Homo sapiens: one gene and its partner. The protein of the gene in region 2 interacts with the protein of the main gene of each other region in a pairwise test. Each region holds a gene or a part of one and is shown on either strand. Other genes may lie near its edges.

Evidence for each region.
Region 1: the proteins of WIF1 (region 2) and CRADD interact in a two-hybrid assay, tested with the Homo sapiens proteins (one large-scale study listed by BioGRID and IntAct).

The regions. Positions count from the first base shown.
Region 1 is NC_000012.12:93,680,113-93,683,899, reverse strand, and holds part of CRADD (death domain-containing protein CRADD), read right to left. Parts: intron 1-3,787. UniProt on the Homo sapiens protein: Adapter protein that associates with PIDD1 and the caspase CASP2 to form the PIDDosome, a complex that activates CASP2 and triggers apoptosis.
Region 2 is NC_000012.12:65,079,538-65,083,324, forward strand, and holds part of WIF1 (wnt inhibitory factor 1 precursor), read right to left. Parts: intron 1-3,787. UniProt on the Homo sapiens protein: Binds to WNT proteins and inhibits their activities. May be involved in mesoderm segmentation.

The DNA.
Region 1 (3,787 bases), about 29 Mb from region 2:
ACACTGAGACCAACACTGAACTTACATGCAGAGCAAGGTCAATTACGTGGTATGATTGGAGGAACCTATGAAAAGAATCCCAAGCTAGAAACCTCTCTAATAAACCCATCACAATATCTAAAATATCTGCCATTAAGAGCTCAGTGACTTTAGATGCATCCAAGTATGCAACTCAGAGCTAGAATGTATCTCAGGAGGGCGGCAGGTGTGGTTCTGTGTTGTCACTCAAGGCTGGCGCCACAAGGGGCAGGCAGAGCCCTTGAGCCCACAGGTAGAGGGGAAATGGACTAGCCAGTCCTGCGCACTGCTGTTGTAAGAGCAGCCAGGGAGTCCAGGGCACAGAGTCTATGGGGAGGACAAGATCAAGCCCAGAGAAGGTTGAAGCAAGTGTCAGCTTAGGGACAGCCATTCCAACAGGCTCAAGAGTTGAGACATCCAATGCTGATGCCGGAGGCACCGAGCTGTGTTCCCAGAGCTCTGTTCTTCACTCTCGCCATGGCTAAGAATACATAAAGCATGAATCAAACCAACGGAGGAGAGAAAAACAAAAACACTCCCAAGCTTAAAGGAAGACTGGGGCAAAAGGCAGAGAATCATGGCAGACACCCAGACCCACAGCCAGGGCCAACACAGTGGAACAGGGAGGGGGTCCTGTGGCCCAGGAGTCACTCCCACCGTGATTTACGCTGAGTCCCACCAGATGGGGAGGCTGGGCTGCCATCAACCTCCTTTCCAGATCCAGATTAGCTCAGGCACTGGAGGGAGCCTGTCAGTGCCGACAGGCCCCATGAGCAGTGAGAAGCCAGGCAGGCAGGCACAGGCTGCCTTCACCCAGACACGGCACTGTCCCTATCTCCTAAATGACCTGACAGGAGCCCAGAGAGGATTTCCAGCTGATCTAATGTCTAGTATGTGACCTTGGCCAGAGAGACAAACCATGAAGTGTTCTCTCCACGGTGCCAAGGTGGATTAAGTCATTTTATCACCAGAATTCCTCTTTTAAAAGGTAAGAGTCCTTACAGGGTGAGAAAAACACAAAACCAATGATCCATTAACAACTTTAACAACTTAAACCTTTTTTTTTTTCCTAACAGAGATTGGGAGACTAGTCACAGAGGCAGATTCTGAGAGAATCAAAAGGTTTAGGGTGTTTTTGTATGTTTTGAGATTTGATGGGGGTGGCGTTCAGAAGAGTAGAGAAGAACAAGATACAGCTCAATTCTCTAAACAAATTACATCCAGCACATAAGTAAAAAGCAACTAACCAGGAACAATCACCAAAATAAAGCCTCTGAGACAGCTCAAAATTTACAAGTGAAACAACGAAAATTAAAACAACAAACCAATAAAGGGGAAACCAAGCATCTCTGGGAAGACCAACACAAGAAAACCTTAATAAGATAAAATCAGTTCATTCTTAGAGAAGGATCAACGTCTTGGCTAAAAAAGAAGGCCATTCCTTCCCATTTGTTCTCAAGGCCTCCCAAGAGACTACTGAATCCATACAAATTAATTAATAAGTATGATCAAAATGAGGAAAAGGTAGGAAGAGTTTAATGTGTACATACATTAAGAGGTTAATGTGTACACACATTCTCCTATAGTCTAGATCCTCAAAACTCAAAGATATCTTTACAAAAATTTAAGTGGACTATTTTAAATCTTACTAAAATTACTCAATTACAACACTGGAGAAGCACCGAGGTCTTAGGCAGTAGGTTCTGGATTTCTTTTTTATAGGGACGTTAAATTGAAGGGATTTCAACTCTGATACTCTTCCCAGGATTTACAAAATAACAAAACCTAGGTTTCCAATTCAGTAAATCCCAATTTAATTTTAGAATTAAAATATTGCCACCAATTAAATTACTTTAAACATGTAAAAAATATTTTAAGTTCTGAAACAAGAGAAGGTGTTAACTATCAAGTTTAAATGCATAATTTCTTCCATTACTTCCACCCTTTCCTTCCCACACACACAAAAAACATATATATCTCTCTCTATATACATATATACATATACACACACACACACCTCTAGAACTTACGGTATACAGGATTTTCAAAAACATATGAAGATTTTAAAAGTGATTTTTAGGAGATAGGAAACTATAAAGTGAAGAAGTGAATGAATGATAAACCCCCAATTCAGGGCTTTTCACTGCGTGGGGGTTGGGAATGAGACAAGATTGGGAAGGAGTGCCCGGGGTTTTTAAAGGCAATCGTAATATTATTTTTCTTAAACTGAGTGATGAGGAGACGGGTGTTCGCTGTACCATTATTCTCCATATCTTACTTATATTTTGTAATATTATTTAAAATAGTCAATATTTAATAAATACAAGTCTTTTTTAAAAGAGTTTATGTGATTGTCACCGTGGAAGGTATTCAAAGACATATATAAATCAAACCCTCACTTCAGAATGTTTTTTTCAATAGCAGTGTTACTCAGTAAAAAGTAAAACAATTAAGATGACTGTACGAATTTGTTCCAGAGCCAACCTTCTACAGAATTAACAAATCTTGAGAAAAACCTTATTTTTCTAAACTTCTACACAGATATGCTCAATTTTTTTCCCATTATGTACTGCTTCATTCTGTTTGCTTTTTTAAAAAGCTATTTTTCCTCAGCTTCTCTGTAACTCTCATCATTTTGTAAAAAATGCCTTAATTCTTTCTAACTCTCTGAATGAATCTGAAGAAATAATGGGGTTATGGCCGAGCATGGTGGCTCACGCCTGTAATCCCAGCACTTTGGGAGGCCGAGGTGGGCGGATCACCTGAGGTCGGGAGTTTAAGACCAGCCTGACCAACATGGAGAAACCCCATCTCTACTAAAAATACAAAATTAGCCGAGCATGGTGGCACATGCCTGTAATCCCAGCTACTCGGGAGGCTGAGGCAGAAGAATTGCTTAAACCCGGGAGGCAGAGGTTGCAGAGAGCCGAGATCGCGCCATTGCACTCCAGCCTGGGCAACAAGAGTGAAACTCCGTCTCAAAAAAAAAAAAATGGTATTATACCTCTACGAATGACATACAACAGCATGATCTGTATCACCCAAAATGACCATAAAATTAAATTCAGTATTTTGATAGTGAAAGGCTTTCAGTTCACCTGTTTTGTTGTTTCCAACTATATGATGCCAGCAGAAACCTCTAAGTCAAATATCAGGAAAACACCAATAATTTTTTAACATTTCTCCAACTCTATGTTATCTATTCTGCTTTCAATAAAGTCATAAAAACATCTAGATACATTTTGTTCAGACATGTGGAGTATTTAATTTTGTAAGGACAATCCAAGCAGTGAATTCCAGTGGTCCTCAAAAGCCAGCTATGTCTAATATTTCAAAAAGCCTAAAGATACATTTAACTGTAACGAGCCCAGACTAGGAATGAAAATACTTTTGCTTTTTCCACTGGGATCTTACCAGGTCTTCCTAAAGTTAGCTGGCTATGTCATGCTGATCAGGTATTCAGACATATGTCAAAATATGAGGTCCATGGAGCAAAAATAGTAAAAGTGGTCTTATTATCAGTATTCATTTTTTTTAACCAGTATTTAAAAAATAGCAACCACGAAGTCTGGGGCCCACTGAACCGGAATAGTTCTATCACTCTTATCAGAAACCCCAGAGAACCTTGATTCTCTAACTTTGTTAAAAATTTGCAAGCCAACTTTCAATTACTTTTTTTTTTCAATTTTTAATTTTTGCCAGTTCAGTTCTCTGCCCCTCTATCTTTGTGAAACAGAGTCAAGGGAGGTTAAGAAAAAGCAAGTGTTTC
Region 2 (3,787 bases):
CCAGCTTGAACCTGGGAGGCAGAGGTTGTCATGAGCTGAGAACATGCCACTGCACTCCAGACTGGGTGACAGAGTGAGACTCTGTCTCAAAAAAAAAAAAAAAAAGCGGAAGGAGAGTTGTGATGGTAACAATATGTTCTTGCTTAGAAATAAAGAACAATCAATAAATAGCACCAATGCTAACATGAGAGTTAGGCAAGTTGAGTGGTTCTGCAGTTACCTGTAGAGACATCCAGAATTACATTAATTTAATGTAATGAATTAAATTAATTAATTAACTTTTTGCATTCTATCCATTCAGTTCCACACCCAGAACTACATTAATTCAATGTAATTAATTATATTAATTTTTGCATTCTATCTATTAATTAAAGAAATTACATTAACATGGGCTAGAAGGAGGTTGCAAAAGAATATGACCCTACAAGCAATATAAAATTTATTTTACAACATGAAAGATATTAAGAGATACATGGTAGACATTCAAACAATTTGCTGCTTTAAATCACAGTATCACATGCAGCAGGCATTAAGGACTTCACATGAGGATAATAATGCCAAGGGGTAGTCTCAGATGCTGTGGGAACTTGTCCATACTTGAAGTTAATTGAGAAACACTTCCTGGTTTCACTAAGCCAAAAGGATAACCTTCATGGACCAAATTCCCACTGCATCCCCTCCTGTGAGTTGTGGTCAAGTTTCCAAAAGACCACTGTGAACAGTTCCCTAGGTGGGTAACAACATTGTTTAAGTTAATTTATAAAATTGATTCACTAGGATGGCCCTGAGAATAAAGGGTCATAAGGCAGGTAATTCTTACCCTGTTTAAGGGAAGGCAGAGGTTTATAAGAAGTCTGATGAAAGGAGTGTTGTCAGGAAAGGTAATTCAATTTGGAATGAATTCCTTTGAAAGAGAGAACAGTATTTCTGTCCCTGCAGGAAAACCAATGACTATTAAAAGTGGATTTGTTTTCATGAATCCAGGTGTTTTAAATGACTTCTACCACCTGCACTTCCCTCTACATTTTACTAGATAATATGTATCATTTAACATACTGTTCTAAAACGTATTTTATTTGGCACTATGAAAGGATTTAGTGATAGATGCCCTTATAATGAATAACATTTGAATTATTTCTATTACTAAGTACAGTAACAACAATCACACAATAAACTTGGGTGTAATGCACACCATGTGCCAAAACATTCTAAAGACTTAACAGTACATATAATGATGGAAAAGAAATGAATGGATAGAATGCAAAAAACTTTGAAATTAAAAGGTCAAATACCATATAAGTTATCATTTGCTACCCCATAATTATATCTTTGAGCTTTGTCACATTATAAATTAAATATACCTTTCTATGTGTGATATATTTAAAAATTACATTTGTAAAACTACAATAATTTTAACAAATATAATTTAATTTAAAAAATAAACTTTTAGTTAATAAGAAAAACTAGACACCAAGATTAAAACAATGATTGTGTAGAATTGATGGTGATTTTTTTTCTTTTCTCTCTTTTTCAGATTTTCTATATGTGAATTTATATCTTTTCATGAAATAAGTGCATTTATGTATTTTTTTTAAAAAGCATTAATCATGTACCCTCCTTTCAGTTCCGTGGCTGATGATTCTTTTTCCATAATTCTCTGATCATAGATAAAATATTCTTCTTGAACATCTATTTAACGTGGCTGTGTTTAAACAACAATTTTATTTAAATCTCTTCCATGTCTCCTTGAAAGTGCAGCAATTTGCATAAAATAGCTTCTGAACGCCTCTTCCAAAAAGTTTTGATGATGTTCAAAGAATATGGAACTGAAAAAATTCCATTCGGAGGCCAGAAACATAACTTCACAGAGCCTTCAGGTATGACCACAGAAGGTAGACTGAGAAGCATGGAATCTGTTATACTTAGCATCAGAGAGTTGATAATGAGCAGTGGCACGACTGCTTCACATGATGCAGCTAGGCTTAATAGATTTCTCTGGACACCCAATACTCTGATCTAATCAATAACACACTTTACACAAAAGTGTCCCTTTTATTTCTTTGAGAATCAGTAAACATTTGTCTTATTCTAATAAGACTGTTCATAAGGCAGGAACTGGTTTCTTTCTTGGATCTTATCAGCAAAAGGCAGTTACCAGAGTAAATCGTTTTCTTTCTTGCTGAAGATGATAACTAATGGTGCATGAATCTCTGAAACATGTAATTTCCTGGATACTTGGTACATTTCTTTAAAAAAGATTTTGTCTGTGGTTTTCATTGCCTCTTTAAAAATTCTAACTTCACACTGGGAAGTTTTAAGATAAAAAAAAAAGAAAAGAAAAAAGAAAAATTTTAACTTGAAAACCATTTAGAAATTGACTAACCTTTTATCTCTGATGTTGACACTAACTTCTTTCAAAGTTTTACTTTGCCATTGTAAAGAAATCTAAAACCATCAATACTGTGAAAATATTTCCACAAATATAGTATTATGAACTACAGAGTAAATATATCCTTCATTTAACCTAAGGGCTTAAATTAAAAGCCACAAGAAATGGCTGATGAACAATATATTTACGCCATACTCTAACTTCTAGACAGGACTTTCTGTTTTTACTTTATTTATAATAAATATTCTTAGACCCAAATCTCCCCATTGGAAAAACTTATTTGAGAGCAAATAAAATCTAAATTCTATGCCAAAGAGAACAGAGAACTAGCTTTAAAGTTTGGGAACAATTTCCACAAATTGTAGATTTATTATTTAGATAAAAGGAACTCAGAGCATGAACAGTAATAGAGAAATGGTATACTGGAGAGTCTAAAACCTCTATTAGGAAAAAGTACATTTTGTTCCATTAAATGACACTAGAGGAAACTCAGGTAAAGGCAAACAGAGTAATTATTTGGGAAACACATGAAAAGGTTGCTTTGTATTCAAACAAAGAATGGGTCTATTCAGGAGAATAATTCACTGGCATGGTTTGCCATGCAGTAAATTTTCTTTTCATGGAGAAGCATAAAAGACACCCAAATATTATCAAGAGAGGAGTGCTGGAGGTCATTTAACTTGCTTCCAATGGACTTGGCTGAATATTAGGATTGTTCCTTCCAGATGAGATGAAGACATCATTTAAACAGCAAAATGGGACAACTCATAAGGCCTTTGTTCTGGCACTCCTTTTAGGGTAGACATAGAGAAAGGAAGCAGAGAATTGCATTAACCCCTTATTGAGAGGAATGAAGAGAATCCAGTATTTCTCTTCTACCTTTGAAGTTCTGTGTTTATGGTGTGTACTTAATCTAATAAGCACAATAATTGTAGGAGCCTCTGAGTTAAGAATCAAAGATCTTTCAGAAAACCAAGGACTTCAAACCTCTTTTAACCCATATATCATGATGCTGACCTAAGTGCTCATGGAAGAACATTAAAACAATAAAGTTATCATCTTTGTTCTAAAGAAGGTTTCAGGCATTTATAGATACAAAACACACAAAAGCTGTAAGGTTTGAAAATTTTCAAATAATTTTTGTTGAATGTTTATTATACTGCAGTTACTGTTTATTTAATTCTCACAACAGCCTATTATTGTTACAGCATACAAGTGAATTCAGATTCGCAGATTCACTGTGAATTCAGATTAGCAGATTCACTGGGTATGAGAGGTACTAAAGAGATGTAAAATAGATCGTACGCTGTAAGTGAAGGGCCAGAAAAAATCTAAAATAAGCAAGAAAGGAAAATAGTTCAATGTTAAAGACCCAAACAAAACGAATAAGCATGCCCA